3 separate regions of the Homo sapiens genome follow, and all the other regions are linked to region 1. Evidence: fine-mapped expression QTL. A gene starts in region 1. Each other region holds a variant in brackets. All regions are shown on one strand. Distances are between the middles of the regions.

Region 1 (4,240 bases):
GGGAAATTTGCATTCTGTAGAGAATCTCCTTCCCTTACAGAAAAGAAGTCTTTTCTGGAGATTCTGACACCTTTTAAGATCCAATAAGAGATATTTATCATCTATTCTCTCTGAAGCCTGTTCTGAGGCTTCATCTACATAACAAGAACCTTGGTTTCCACAATGCCCCTTATCTTAACTCAAGCTTTTCTTTTCTTTCCCTCCCTCTTTCTTTTCCTTCCTTCCCTCCTTCCTCTCTCTCTTTTCCTCCCTCTCTTTCTCTCTTTCTTTTCTTCTCTGTTGCCCAAGCTGGAGTGCAGTGGCACCATCATGGCTCACTGTAGCCTCAACTTCCCAGGCTCAAGCAATCCTCCCATCTCAGCCTCCTGAGTAGCTGGGACTACAGGCATGCACCACCACACCTGGATAATTTTTTTTTTTGTAGAGGTGGGGGTCTCGCTGTGTTGCCCAGGCTGTCCTTCAACTCCTGGCCTCAAGGGATCCTCCCAGCTCACCCTCCCAAAATGCTGGGATCACAGGCATGAGCCACCGCAATGGCCCATTTCTTCATGTCGTTTTCCAACTGTTCAGCCAACGCTTAACTCTGAACCAACTGCCAATCTTTGAATCTGCTAGTGACCTGAAAGCCTTTCCAGGCTGACCCAATGTGTACCTCTCATGTATTGATTTATGTCTTTGCCTGTAACTGCTGTCTCCCTAAGATGTATAAAACCAAGCTGTAACCCAACCACTTTGGGCTCACGTTCTCAGGACCCCCTGAGGCTGTGTCACCAGCCATGGTCACTCAAGTAGGAGGCCCAGAATAAAACTCTTGACAGACTTTGAGTCTTTTTGGTCAACATAACCTAACCCTAAACATAATCCTCCTGGGGAAGGTGAGATCACAGGTATCTCTTTTCTTCGTTCGATCTGTGTATTTCCTGATTTCTCTACAGTTTTTAGGCATTCGCTGTGTGATCTAGAAAAGCTACAGAGTCTCGCTCCGTCGCCAGGCTGGAGTCCAGGGGCGCGATCTCGGCTCACTGCAACCTCCACCTCCCGAGTTCAAACTATTCTCCTGCCTCAGCCCCCGAGTAGCTGGGATTACAGGCACACGCCACTACTCCCAGCTAATTTTTGTATTTTTGGTAGAGAAGGGATTTCACCATGTTGGCCAGGATGGTCTCTATCTCTTGACCTCGCGATCCGCCCGCCTCGGCCTCCCAAAGTGCTGGGATTTATAGGCGTGAGCCACCGCGCCCAGCCACAAATTCTATTTTCTTTCTCTTCCTTGGAAAGCATCGCTGGGCATTTATCCTGTCCTAGTATTTGAGTGAAACTTCTCTTAGCATTTCAGCGCAGTGACCACGATACACCCTTTCCTTTCCTTCTCTTTATGGGAAACTCGGTTCTAACCCAGAGGCCTTGGGCTCCAGGACCCAGTCAGGCAGCCCTGGACTTGACCCTAAAAGGGAGTAAAGACAAATGCGAAGTTCAATCAGGGGTTCAGAGCTCCCAAAGCTCATAGCCTGGAGCTTCTTAACCTTTAGGCAGGGTAGAGACATTTAAAACGGCCCCTAAACTTGGGGGGCGCGTAGGCTCATGGGAAATAGAGTAGGGTGCTTGTCCTGGGACCAGCTGTGGGCCCCGGAGGCTGACTTCCGGTGCACTCCTGCGCGTGTGCACCTCTCTCTGTGTGCGTGTTCGCGCATGCGCGCCGCCGCTGCACTGCCCTCGCTTCCTGTGCGTCCTCAGGTCACCGCTTGCTCTAGTTCCCAGGCTTTGGCCTCCAGTGGACGAGAATCGCGGAGCCTGCGGGGCTGGAGGTTGAGCGCCCGGGCCAGCACCTAGGCGGGCGCGGGGGTGTGCAGGCCAGGGTTCGCGCGGGCCGGGTGGAGGCTTGAGCGGGGACCCCCGAGCTTGAGCCCCGGAGCCGGCGGCGCTGGGGCCAGAGGGGCCGGACGGGAGGTGGCGGAGGTGGCGGCGGAGGCGAAGGGGCGGCGGGACGCGGGCCTGGCCCGTGTGTGTCCTGGCGGCCTGGCCCAGGCTGCCGCTGTACGGTGAGCCCGAGGGAGGCGGATCTGGGTCCCGGGAAGGACACCCGCCTGGATTTGCCCCTTAGGCCCGGCCCGGGCCCCTCGGGAGCAGAACAACCTTAGTGAGGTGGACAGGAGGGGACCTCGCGAGCAGACGCGCGCCAGCGACAGCAGCCCCGCCCCGGCCTCTCGGGAGCCGTGGGGCAGAGGCTGCGGAGCCCCAGAAGGGTAGGTCTTGGGTTTTCGGGCCCGGAGCGAGAAGGGCCTGAGTGAAGTCACCGTGTGTTGGGGACCTTAGAGTGTGGGGCAGGGGGAGGGTCTCGATCGCTTGCAGGAGAGACGTGTGTTTGGGTTTGAGGGCAGGGTCCGGCTGCACCGAACAGGCGCTGCATGGGAAATCTGGGAGGACGAGGCTTATGGGGGCCTGGAGGGTGTCACCAGCCTCAGCTGCGGACGTCGTCTCCACTCCCCGCTAACCCCTAACAGCCCTTCCTCCTCCTTTCCGTGCTCCAGATTTCGACCTCCTCTAAACGTCCGTCAGCGCCTCTGTTCTCTCATTTAAGTGTCTGCTGATTCCCCCCTTAGATCTGCCCTGGAGACTGGTAGTAATGCAGGAACAGTCTGCAGGGATTCTCTCTTGCTGCCTCAGTTGCTAGGGGAAGAGACTGGGCCTTAGCAGGTGGGTGACTTGACCGGGTCACTGGCTTTGTGGGTAGAGTTGCTCATAGTAGAACTCAGGAGTCTTATCTCCCAGGCCAGTGTTCTTTCTCCCGTATCCTAGTTTTCTTAATAGAAGATTATTAGGTGCAGCAATAACCAAGTTCAGTTAGATAATTTAGAAACAAAACCATATTTTATACACATTCATTTCATTTCTGAGAGCTCACATACTCAATTCCTATGGCTTCTTTGATTTTAAGCAGTTTAAAGAGACAATAAGAAAATGCGGGCCGGATGCAGTGGCTCACACCTGTAATCCCAGCACTTTGCGGGGGCTAAGGCAAGAGTATCCCTTGAGACCAGGAGTTAGAGACCAGCCTAGGCAACATAGGGAGACCCTGACTCTACAAAAAATACAAAAGTAGCCAGGCATGCTGGGATGCACCTGTGGTCCCAGCTACTCAGGAGGCTGAGGTGGGAGGATCAATGGAGGCCAGGAGGTCGAGGCTGCAGTGAGCTGTGAATGCACCACTGCACTCCAGCCTGGGTGGCAGATTGAGACCCTGTCTCAACAAACAGACAAACCACAAAAAACATGAGCTGTATAATGGGAATTTTTTTTTTCTTTTTGCAGGTTGTATTTGATGATGGCAGACTATTTGTAAAAGGAGTCATGTTACCCATGAGAGTCTCACTCATCTGATTACTACCTGATTATCTTAGAGTTACAAAGTTACAAGTGCATGCTTCGCCTATCACTCTTTTTCACTCTCTTTTTTTTTTTTTTTTTTTTTTTTTTGAGACAGTGTCTCTCACCCAGTCTGGAGTGCAGCAGTGTGGTCTCGGCTCACTGCAACCTCCACCTCCCAGGTTCAAAGGATTCTTGTGCCTCAGCCTCCTGAGTAGCTGGGACTACAGGCATGTGACACTATGCCTGGCTAATTTTTTTGTTATTTTTAAGTAGAGATGGGGTTTCGCCATATTGGCCAAGGAAGGCGGATCACTTGAGGCCAGAATTCGAGACCAGCCTGGCCAACATGGCGAAACCCTGTATCACTCTTTTAGGCCCTTCTGAGTGTTTGCAGGCTGAGTGTTCACAGGGTGTTAGCCTATTGAGCTTTCTTTTGTGGTTCTTACGCAGGAGATTCCTGCCTTTGCAGGCCAGAGCACTCATGACTTCAGTGACCTGCTTCTCCCCCTCTAGGTCTACCAGCCACAGTCTCTGCACGTTTCCAAGAGCAGCAGAAAATGAACACATTGCAGGTGAGTTTTCATGCTTGTGTATATGTTCCTCAACTTTATTTTATGATGCATTTTAAGAGGTTTGTAAGGATTCTTACCTTTTTTTTTTTCTTTTTTTTTGAGATGGAGTCTTGCTCTGTTGCCCAGGCTGGAGTGCAGTGGCATGATCTCGCTTCACTGCAACCTCCACCTCCTGGGTTCAAGCGATTCTCCTGCCTCAGCCTCCCGAGTAGCTGGGATTACAGGCGTGCGCCACCATGCCCAACTAATTTTTTGTATTTTTAGAAGAGACAGGGTTTCACCATGTTGGCCAGGCTGGTCTC
Region 2 (4,240 bases), 21 kb after region 1:
TCTCAGTTGTATCTCACCGACCATCATACAGCTCATTTAGAAGAGAAACCCTATGAATGTAATGAATGTGGGAAAACCTTCCTTGTAAATTCAGCCTTCGATGGGCACCAGCCACTTCCAAAAGGGGAGAAATCCTATGAATGTAATGTATGTGGAAAGTTATTCAATGAGTTGTCATACTATACTGAACATTATAGAAGTCATTCAGAAGAGAAACCTTATGGATGTAGCGAATGTGGGAAAACCTTTTCCCATAATTCATCCCTCTTCAGACATCAAAGAGTACACACAGGCGAGAAACCCTATGAATGTTACGAATGTGGAAAATTCTTCTCTCAGAAATCATATCTCACTATACATCATCGAATTCATTCAGGAGAGAAACCCTATGAATGTAGTAAATGTGGAAAAGTCTTCTCTCGGATGTCAAACCTCACTGTCCACTACAGAAGCCATTCAGGAGAGAAACCCTATGAATGTAATGAATGTGGGAAAGTCTTTTCTCAGAAGTCATACCTCACTGTACACTATAGAACTCATTCAGGAGAGAAACCCTATGAATGTAACGAGTGTGGGAAAAAATTCCACCACAGATCAGCCTTCAATAGCCATCAGAGAATTCATAGAAGAGGAAATATGAACGTACTTGATGTGGAAAATCTCTGAAGTCAGATCTCAATTTTTAGAAAACTCTCTGAATATAATGAATATGGGGAATCCAATAGGAAGTCAAAGCGTTTATCTGAGAGTTCGTGTTCCTGAACGGTGAGAAGCATTTAGGCATTAGAGTCATTTTAATCCAAATTTTCACAGAGAAGAATCCCGAAGAATGTAACAAGAAGCAAAGCCTTCAGCAAGATCATACGACTCATCGGACACTAATTTATATAGGAGTGAAGTTTTATAAATATTTAATATTTATTTTGGATTCAAATTGTATTTACATATCAGGGAATCATACAAAGGCAAAATCTGTCAATATGGTGAATGTGGAAAATATATTGTCTTGGAAATTTGTTGTAAAAGCCATATTTCTAATGGAAAATCAGGTGTTTACAGGAAAGATCTCAGAGGCTATGAGCTCTGAATAAATCTTCATTGTATAAAATGAAGTTTTTAAATTGTCAGGAGTTGATCATGAGGACAGTAGCATTAAATAAGTATATGGCCGTTTTTTATCATGTCTTAAAAATGCAATCTAATGGTAATTCTATGCAAGTTTGGAATTGGATGACTTGTGAAGAGGCAGTTTTCTTATTTGAGTATTAGGATGGCAAAATGTATTAAGACAGGACATATTGTTGGTGAGATAATATTTAATAGGTATAAAATGGTAAAATACCTAGTTTTCTATTTAGAGGAATTTACAAATGGGTTTTTAACAAATGCCTCATTAGTACAGGAGGCAGTCGTTTTGTAAAGTTTTCAACTGCATCTGAGTAAGATAAGATTTTCTAAAAGACTATTTTGATAAACTATACATACATAATTTGGAATTGTTTAAGTCTATTTCAGTGAAAGAGAACAAGCATACTGCCCATACTCTAAAATATCCCCAGCTCTCACACCACCCTTGTTTTTTAACCCATAGGTTTGAGTGTGCCTAGTGCCAATATTTTGTAATTTAGAAATTTTATTCACAAACTTCTGTTTGG[T/C]ACAAATACAGTGTCATTGTTTTGTGCATTCTCCTTTTTCCCAGTATTTCAGAACAAATTGATTCAAGTTTCTAGCAGATATTTTTTGATCAATTAACTTAATGTCCTCGCTCCATTTCTTGCTGGAACAGTTTAGGTACCTACCACTTCTTCACATGACACAGGGGAATCCTGATTAGTCAAAATAATAATGATTTCATTCTCTTTGCCAGTAACTTGTTTTATAGTGGTCATATGACCTGATACTGGGTAAACAAAACAAAGATGGACTTGTTCTGGGAAAAGGTAAAATGGTAATCAAATAGATTGTGTTCCAGGAATGCAAAGGTGGCTTAATATTCACAAGTCAGTTGCTATTATACACCACCTGTAGAAAAGTAATCTGGCATGCAGAACATTCTTGTGGTACAATTAATGTTCGTTTATGATCTTAGCAAATGATGGATTGAAAGGGACTTACTTAACTGCATAAAGAGACTTAAACTACAACAAACAATATGCTTAATGATGAAATAGTGAACATTTCTCCTAAGATTATAAAAATAAGACAAGGATATCTGCTGTCAATGATTTTATTCGGCATTGTTCAGAAGGACCTAACCAGAAAACTAATGCAAGGAAGAGAAACAAAAGGCATAGAGATTAGAAAAGAAGTAAAACTTTAAAAACGAAAAAGAATATAAATCTCTATTTGCAGATGCCATGAGTAAATTTGGTAAGTTCCCTGCATAAAAGTTATGCAAAAAGCATTTTATGATATACCAGCAAAAAACATGGAAAATGAAATTTTGAAAAGCAATGCCACTTCAAAGATCCCTCAAGTGCCTAGAGGGAGAAAATGAGTTAATATGCTTTGAAGAACTGTATCCAGAAAATAAAATTACAAAGGAGGAGAGGGATAGGATTCCAGGACAATCTCAAAACTATTGCTTTTTCCTAAATTCATTGCAACCTTAAAATCCTAGCAAGTTCTTTAATGTAAATTAACAAGCTAATTCTAGAATTCATATGCATATTCAAAAGTCGAATAATTGTCAAGGCTATCCTGTAGAATGGACAGAGAGGATTGAAATTTCTAAATATCAAGACCTGTTATAAAGCCATAGAAATAATGAAGGTGTTAATTTGGCACAAGGATGAAAAAACTGACTAGTGGAACAGCATACAGATTCAAAAGTAGACCCACGTGTATACCATCACCTGAGTTTTGAGAAAGGTGACATTGAAGTGTAGTGGGGGAAAGGGTGTTCTTTCCAGTAAATGTACTTTGCCAATAAAATTTTGTAATTTGATAAAAAGTTATTTGGAGGTGGATTGCAGATCTGAATATGAAATGTGAAAGCTTTACAAAGAAATCTTAGGACAGTTTGTAATCTTGGAGTAAGCAAAGGTTTATTGAGACCCAAAAAGCATTAACCCATAAAATTAGAACTTAATATTAAATTTGAGAACTTCTATTTATCAGAAAGACCACCAGTAAGAAAATGAACAGGAAATCATGGGGAGGAGAAGATATTTGCAGTTCATGTATGTGACAACAGCACCGAGTATAGCAGAAGTGTTGGCAAACTTTATAAAGCAAGGCACCAGATGGTGAAAATTTTCAGCTTTGTCACAACTGCTCATCTTTGCTATTGTGTGAAAGCATCCATACACCATGCATTAAAAAAAAAATGAGCATGGCTGCTTCCCAGTAAAACCATTCACAATCCCAGGTGGCAGTCTGGATTTGGTCTGCACTCATAGTTTTCTGGTCCCTGATCTCGAATATGTAAAGAGCACCTACAAATCAACAAGGGGGAAACTGGAAAAGGCAAAAGACTTTAGAGGATATCCACTCACTTTAGAGGATATCCAGACGGCCAATAAGCATGAAAAGATGTGTTAGCTTTATTAGTAATCAGGGAAATGCAAACTTAAAACATGTAGCACTGCTACCCATCCATGGAAATGGTTAAAATGAAAAGCATGAAAAAGCATCACGTTTTGGCAAGGATGTAAGCAAGAGGAACTGTACACTACTGGTGGAATTGCTCATCGATAAAACCATTTTGAAAGCTGGCACTAAAAGCCAAGCATATGTATACTGTTTTACCCAAACCCAGCAAAAATGCATGTGTCTGTCCACCAAAGGACATGCACTAGAATATTTATAGCCTAAAACTGCACAAAACAGAACTATCTTAAGGCACATGTGCAATGGAATGAATAAAGAAGTGGCATATGTCCATGGAATACTGTAAAACAGTGAGCATGAATGAACTAGAAGTCCGTGTAATAACGCAGCTGAATTTAACAAACCTTGCTGAATGAAAGACTCCAGACACAAAAGCCAACATGCTGTATGATTCCTTCTATATAAATTATAAAGACGGGCAAAACTTGTATACGTGGTTTAAAATTAGGGTAGCAGTTAGCCTTGGCCAAGGCTGAAAGGGGGCATTTATCTGGTGCTGGGAATAATCTGTTTCTAAACCTAGGTGCTAAGTATTTGAGTGTGTTTTGAGCTGTGCACTTAAGATATGTGTATTTTTCTGCATGTGTGTTAAACTTTCCATAAAAGTTTTCTAAAATCACAAATGGCT
Region 3 (4,240 bases), 61 kb before region 1:
GTAGAAAGGGAAGTGTGTGAGAACTGCAGGTATAGCACCTAGGAGGTCATCTTAGAAATCTACTGGAGCAAGAGAAAGAACAGAGAAAAGGGGAAGTCCCCATTACCCTCCGAGCAAAGAAGCTTCCTTGCTACTGAATGTGGCTAGAGCTGTACCCCACCCACTCTGTCTGCACTACTGTGCAGTCGTTCCAAGGTGGTTGTCTGATTTGACTGTGAAGAGCCTGGATAGTTAACATCTGTTGGGTCTGGGTGGTGATACATCAGTGTGTGTTATCTCACTCTATATAGCCTTACTTTGGAAGTATTTCATGCTGATAATAGACAAAGCTAGTGGGTTTGGTGTGAAGAGAGTCTGTTCATAGGAAAACATGATCTGTTCATCAGTCTAGCTTAGCAGCTAGCTAAATAAATGAAGTGTAACTCAATGGCTCATAGAGCTTTATATTACCATAGAGATTTATGTTACCACAGGGGTATAAAAAGTATTAATGAATTAACAGAAGGTCTTTTATATTTCATTTATTTATTACATCTCTTAGCAGACTGTTTTTACTGTAAATGTGAACACACAGTTTTCCACTTCTTTCTTGTTCATAGTTTTCTTGACAAAGAGTAGCTACTTTTCTTTCAAATTTTCCAATTTTGTAGTTTAACCAATAATAGTTTCAGTGACTTCAATACATTAACACCCAATTGATACATAAACTTCAGAGGAGTTTGCCTTAATCAGTATGTTCATTGCTTTTTAAATTTTTTATCTTTCACAAAGATAGAAATTCAGTGCAGTTGTTTGTTTATTTGTTTAGTTTTTCTGGGCTACAAACATCTTAATTTCTTGATAGGCCAGTTGTAACGTGTGACTAAGGACTATATTCTTCAGACATTGCATTTGAAGCAATGGGCAGGTGTGGGATTTGGAAGCAGTATGAAAGTAACATCATTTGTTTCTGCAGACTTTGTAATTTTCTTCTGGAAAACCCAGATTATCCAAAGAGAGAAGACAGAATCATTATAAATCCCAGTAGCAGTCTGCTGGCCAGCCAAGATGAGACAAAGGCAAGTGTCATGTTCATGTTTTGCAGTCACTGCCTGGAAATGCTGTGCTTTGTTGTTGTTGTTGTTGTTGTTGTTGTTATCTCTGTGGGAAGAAGGTGCTTTGTTGGGACAAGTTTTTAAAGACTAGCCGAGGGACATAGGATTTCAGAATATATCTATACTTCAGTGCGATCTCCCAGTCTGAGCCACTTTGAATTCTGTCTTTAACTTCTATCTTTCCTTGTAATTCTTATCTTCCTTTTCCCACAAAGAATTGAACGAATCCTCCATATCTGTAATCCTACAAAGCAAATTCCTAAAGCAAAACAAGAATTGGCCAAAACTCTTAACATTTTATTATGAAAATTTTCAAACCTACAGAAAAATTGAAATATTTTACGTTGATCACCTGTATACCTACCACTGGTACTACTAAAAAGTTAACAGTTTACTGTATCCTCTTTATCATACATATGTCCTCTGTCTGTCCATCAGCACATCTTTGTTATGTTTCATTTCATGATAATGCATTTCAAAGTAAATTGCAAAAACATCAGTACACTTCCCTGTAAGTACTTCAGCATGCAGATCATTACCCAGAGTGGAATATCTTTTTTCTTTTGATGTGAGATTTGTATACAGCGTATCCTATACATCTGTTTAACCAGATCTCATATCAAGATGTAAACAGTTTGGTTTTTAAAAACTTTAATCATTGTCATTATTTGTGATCTAAACTGGCATTTAGTTTGTTACATGGTAAAGTATGGTTGAGAACTAACTTTATTAAGATGTGTTGCTTGATCTTCCAACTCCCCATAGATTCTTTGACTATCTCTCTTACGTATTCTATAATAGAAAAAAAATAGTTGTTTGTAAATATGGTATGGAAAGAAGATGGCTGTAAGATTGGTTTAAATCCCCAACTATACTTCTTTACTAGTTATAACTAGTAAAACTAGTCTGCCGGCTCCAGACAGGTTTGTTTAACCTCTCTGAGCCACCATTTTCTCATCTCTCTTATAGGGCTGGTAACTTCCTTATAGAGTAATTAGAACAAATGTTATTCTTTTCTGCACATAAATTCTTAAAATGATTTCCCCTACATGGGAAATGTACTGCCTGGCCTTTGATTTTATGCTTCTGTCTCGTTTCA[G/A]TTGCCTAAAATAAGACTTTTTTGACTATTCTAAATTGACTCCTCTTGACCAGCACTGCTTCATCCAAGCTGCTGACCTCCTCATGGCCGACTTCAAAGTGCTCAGTAGTCAGGACATCATGTGGGCCCTGCACGAGCTCAAAGGACACTATGCAATCACCCGAAAGGTACTCTACTTGGTCTTCCTGTTGGGGTCACACCTCTTGACTACATCTTCACACGGTAACAGAATGAACAGCTTGTGGAAATTGGGATGGTTTATGATTGCTAAGGAATTTATGAGGGTGAAGATAAATAGATGGGTATTTGCTGATCGTGAAGGGCTAAATGAAAAGAAATAATAGATAGATGAGAAGTAGAGAAGTTCTGCTTTGACCGTAAAAACATGGAGGGTAATACATTCTACTGTGGAATGCAGGAGTATGAGAGATGCGTTCTAATCCTGCTCCTTCCTGATTTGCTTTCCGACTTGGGACAGGTCACACAACCATCCATCCCCCAGGTGGCTCAGTTATCAGTGATAGGACGTAAGGTCTGTAGAGAGTCCGGGAACACAGCAGTGCCCCCTCAGAAGAGAATGGGCAGCTACTGACAGCTCCCAGCGTTCTCCCCCCAGGATCCTAAAATAGATGGCACTTAAAGGCCTTGGTTGAGGGTGAGGAGGGTGCTGGTTTGTGGTGGGTAACACAGGCGTCTTCCATGAAGGACAGCACACGGTGCATGCTTTGTAGCTGTGGCCAGAACAGGAGCGCACGCACCAGCAGAGACCTTGGCTTACTCCTCTTGGTCGCTCTTACTGCCATTAAATTCTATTCTACTGAAATTCTTGTGATTCTCAGCAACACAGTGATGTTTCTTTTGTCCAAAGGACAAACGTGGAGTTATCGTAGTGGTTAAAATACTCATTGGGTCTTACCTGTAGGAAGGGAAGAACCAAGCCAAGGACTGTGGCTTATGCTGAGGTCTAGGCCAAGCCCCTTCCACCTTTTTTTTTTTTTTTTTTGAAATGGAGTCTCGCTCTGTCGCCCAGGCTGGAGTGCAATGGCGTGATCTCAGCTCACTGCAGCCTCTGCCTCCCCAGTTCAAGCGATTCTCCTGCCTCAGCCTCCTGAGTAGCTGGGACTATAGATGCTCACCACCACGCCTGGCTGATTTTTGTATTTTTAGTAAAGATGGGGTTTCACCATGTTGGCCAGGCTGGTCAGCAACTCCTGACCTCAGATGATCTGCCTGCCTCAGCGTCCCAAAGTGCTGGGATAACCTCGTGAGCCACTGCACCCGGCCAAAAAAAGACTGAAAGAAAAATAGGCTTTGAAAGGGTAAAACAGGAGGCAACCTAAGGTAGACCAAGGGTCTCCACAAGGGCCTCCCTGAGCAAGGGACATTTAATCACAGACCCACATAGGAGTTTGGTGAAAGGGGTCGTGGAAGATGTTAGTATCATTTATTGGGGTGAGAACTAGTATAAACATCTGCTTTGGAGAGAAATAATCATGAAATCAGTCTGGGAAACGTTGGTTGCCAATGTGCTGAGAAGGGCCTGTGAGACATCTGAGTAAAAATAATTCATTGGGAGGTTGAATGGACTAGAAAGTTTGGAAAATACAGACTGTAGATAGGATTTTTTTTTTAAATCTCCTTGGGTTTTATGGTGATAGGACTTTGAGAGTCATCAGCATATGGAAAATCTCACCAGCCAGGATGAGGTACCCAGAGATACCAGGTGAGAAGAGAGGACTCCTGACATGTAAAGACCAAGCGGAGGAGGCAGGCAGACAGGAAGGAGGAAGTTGAGAGACTGGAGCGTCCGTATTATCATCATCATCATCATCATGGTTATTCTTGTTTAGAAACAGGGTCTCTCTCTGTCACCCAGGCTGGAGTACAGTGGCCCAATCATGGCTTATTGCAACCTTGACCTTCTGGGCTCAAGCCATCCTCCTGCCTCAGCTTCCCATGTAGCTAGGACTGCAGGTGCACGCCACCACACCTAGATGATCTTTCTATTTTATTTTTTGTAGAAATGGGGTCTTGCTAGATAGTGCAG

Direction of the effects. Alleles are on the strand shown, and positions count from the first base shown. SD is a standard deviation of normalised expression in the study named. Not every link is listed here.
As copies of A replace G in region 3, the expression in nucleus accumbens of the gene that starts at base 1,707 in region 1 goes up (large effect, 1.3 SD a copy in GTEx).

The links. PIP is the estimated chance that this variant, and not a neighbour inherited with it, causes the effect.
Region 2: its variant is the best candidate, but not a certain one, in a credible set for the expression of RBAK in whole blood (TOPMed, PIP 0.54).
Region 3: its variant is the best candidate, but not a certain one, in a credible set for the expression of RBAK in nucleus accumbens (GTEx, PIP 0.53).

The regions. Positions count from the first base shown.
Region 1 is chr7:5,044,154-5,048,393 of GRCh38, forward strand. It overlaps RBAK (RB associated KRAB zinc finger), which reads left to right and starts at 1,707. Exons shown (of 5, transcript NM_021163.4): 1 at 1,707-2,243; 2 at 3,880-3,938. The coding sequence starts at 3,924. RBAK-RBAKDN (RBAK-RBAKDN readthrough) reads left to right here and starts at 1,707. Exons shown (of 6, transcript NM_001204513.3): 1 at 1,707-1,805; 2 at 3,880-3,938. The coding sequence starts at 3,924. RefSeq lists a silencer at 1,847-2,056 and an enhancer at 2,207-2,316.
Region 2 is chr7:5,064,936-5,069,175 of GRCh38, forward strand. The region is part of intron 4 of RBAK-RBAKDN (RBAK-RBAKDN readthrough); the gene reads left to right. RBAK (RB associated KRAB zinc finger) reads left to right here. Exons shown (of 5, transcript NM_021163.4): 5 at 1-4,240. The coding sequence ends at 666. Among named protein-coding and RNA genes, the nearest start is that of RBAKDN, 5.0 kb to the right of the region's middle. The variant T/C (reference allele first, on the strand shown) is at 1,656.
Region 3 is chr7:4,982,716-4,986,955 of GRCh38, forward strand. It overlaps the pseudogene RNF216P1. Among named protein-coding and RNA genes, the nearest start is that of MMD2, 26 kb to the left of the region's middle. The variant G/A (reference allele first, on the strand shown) is at 2,194.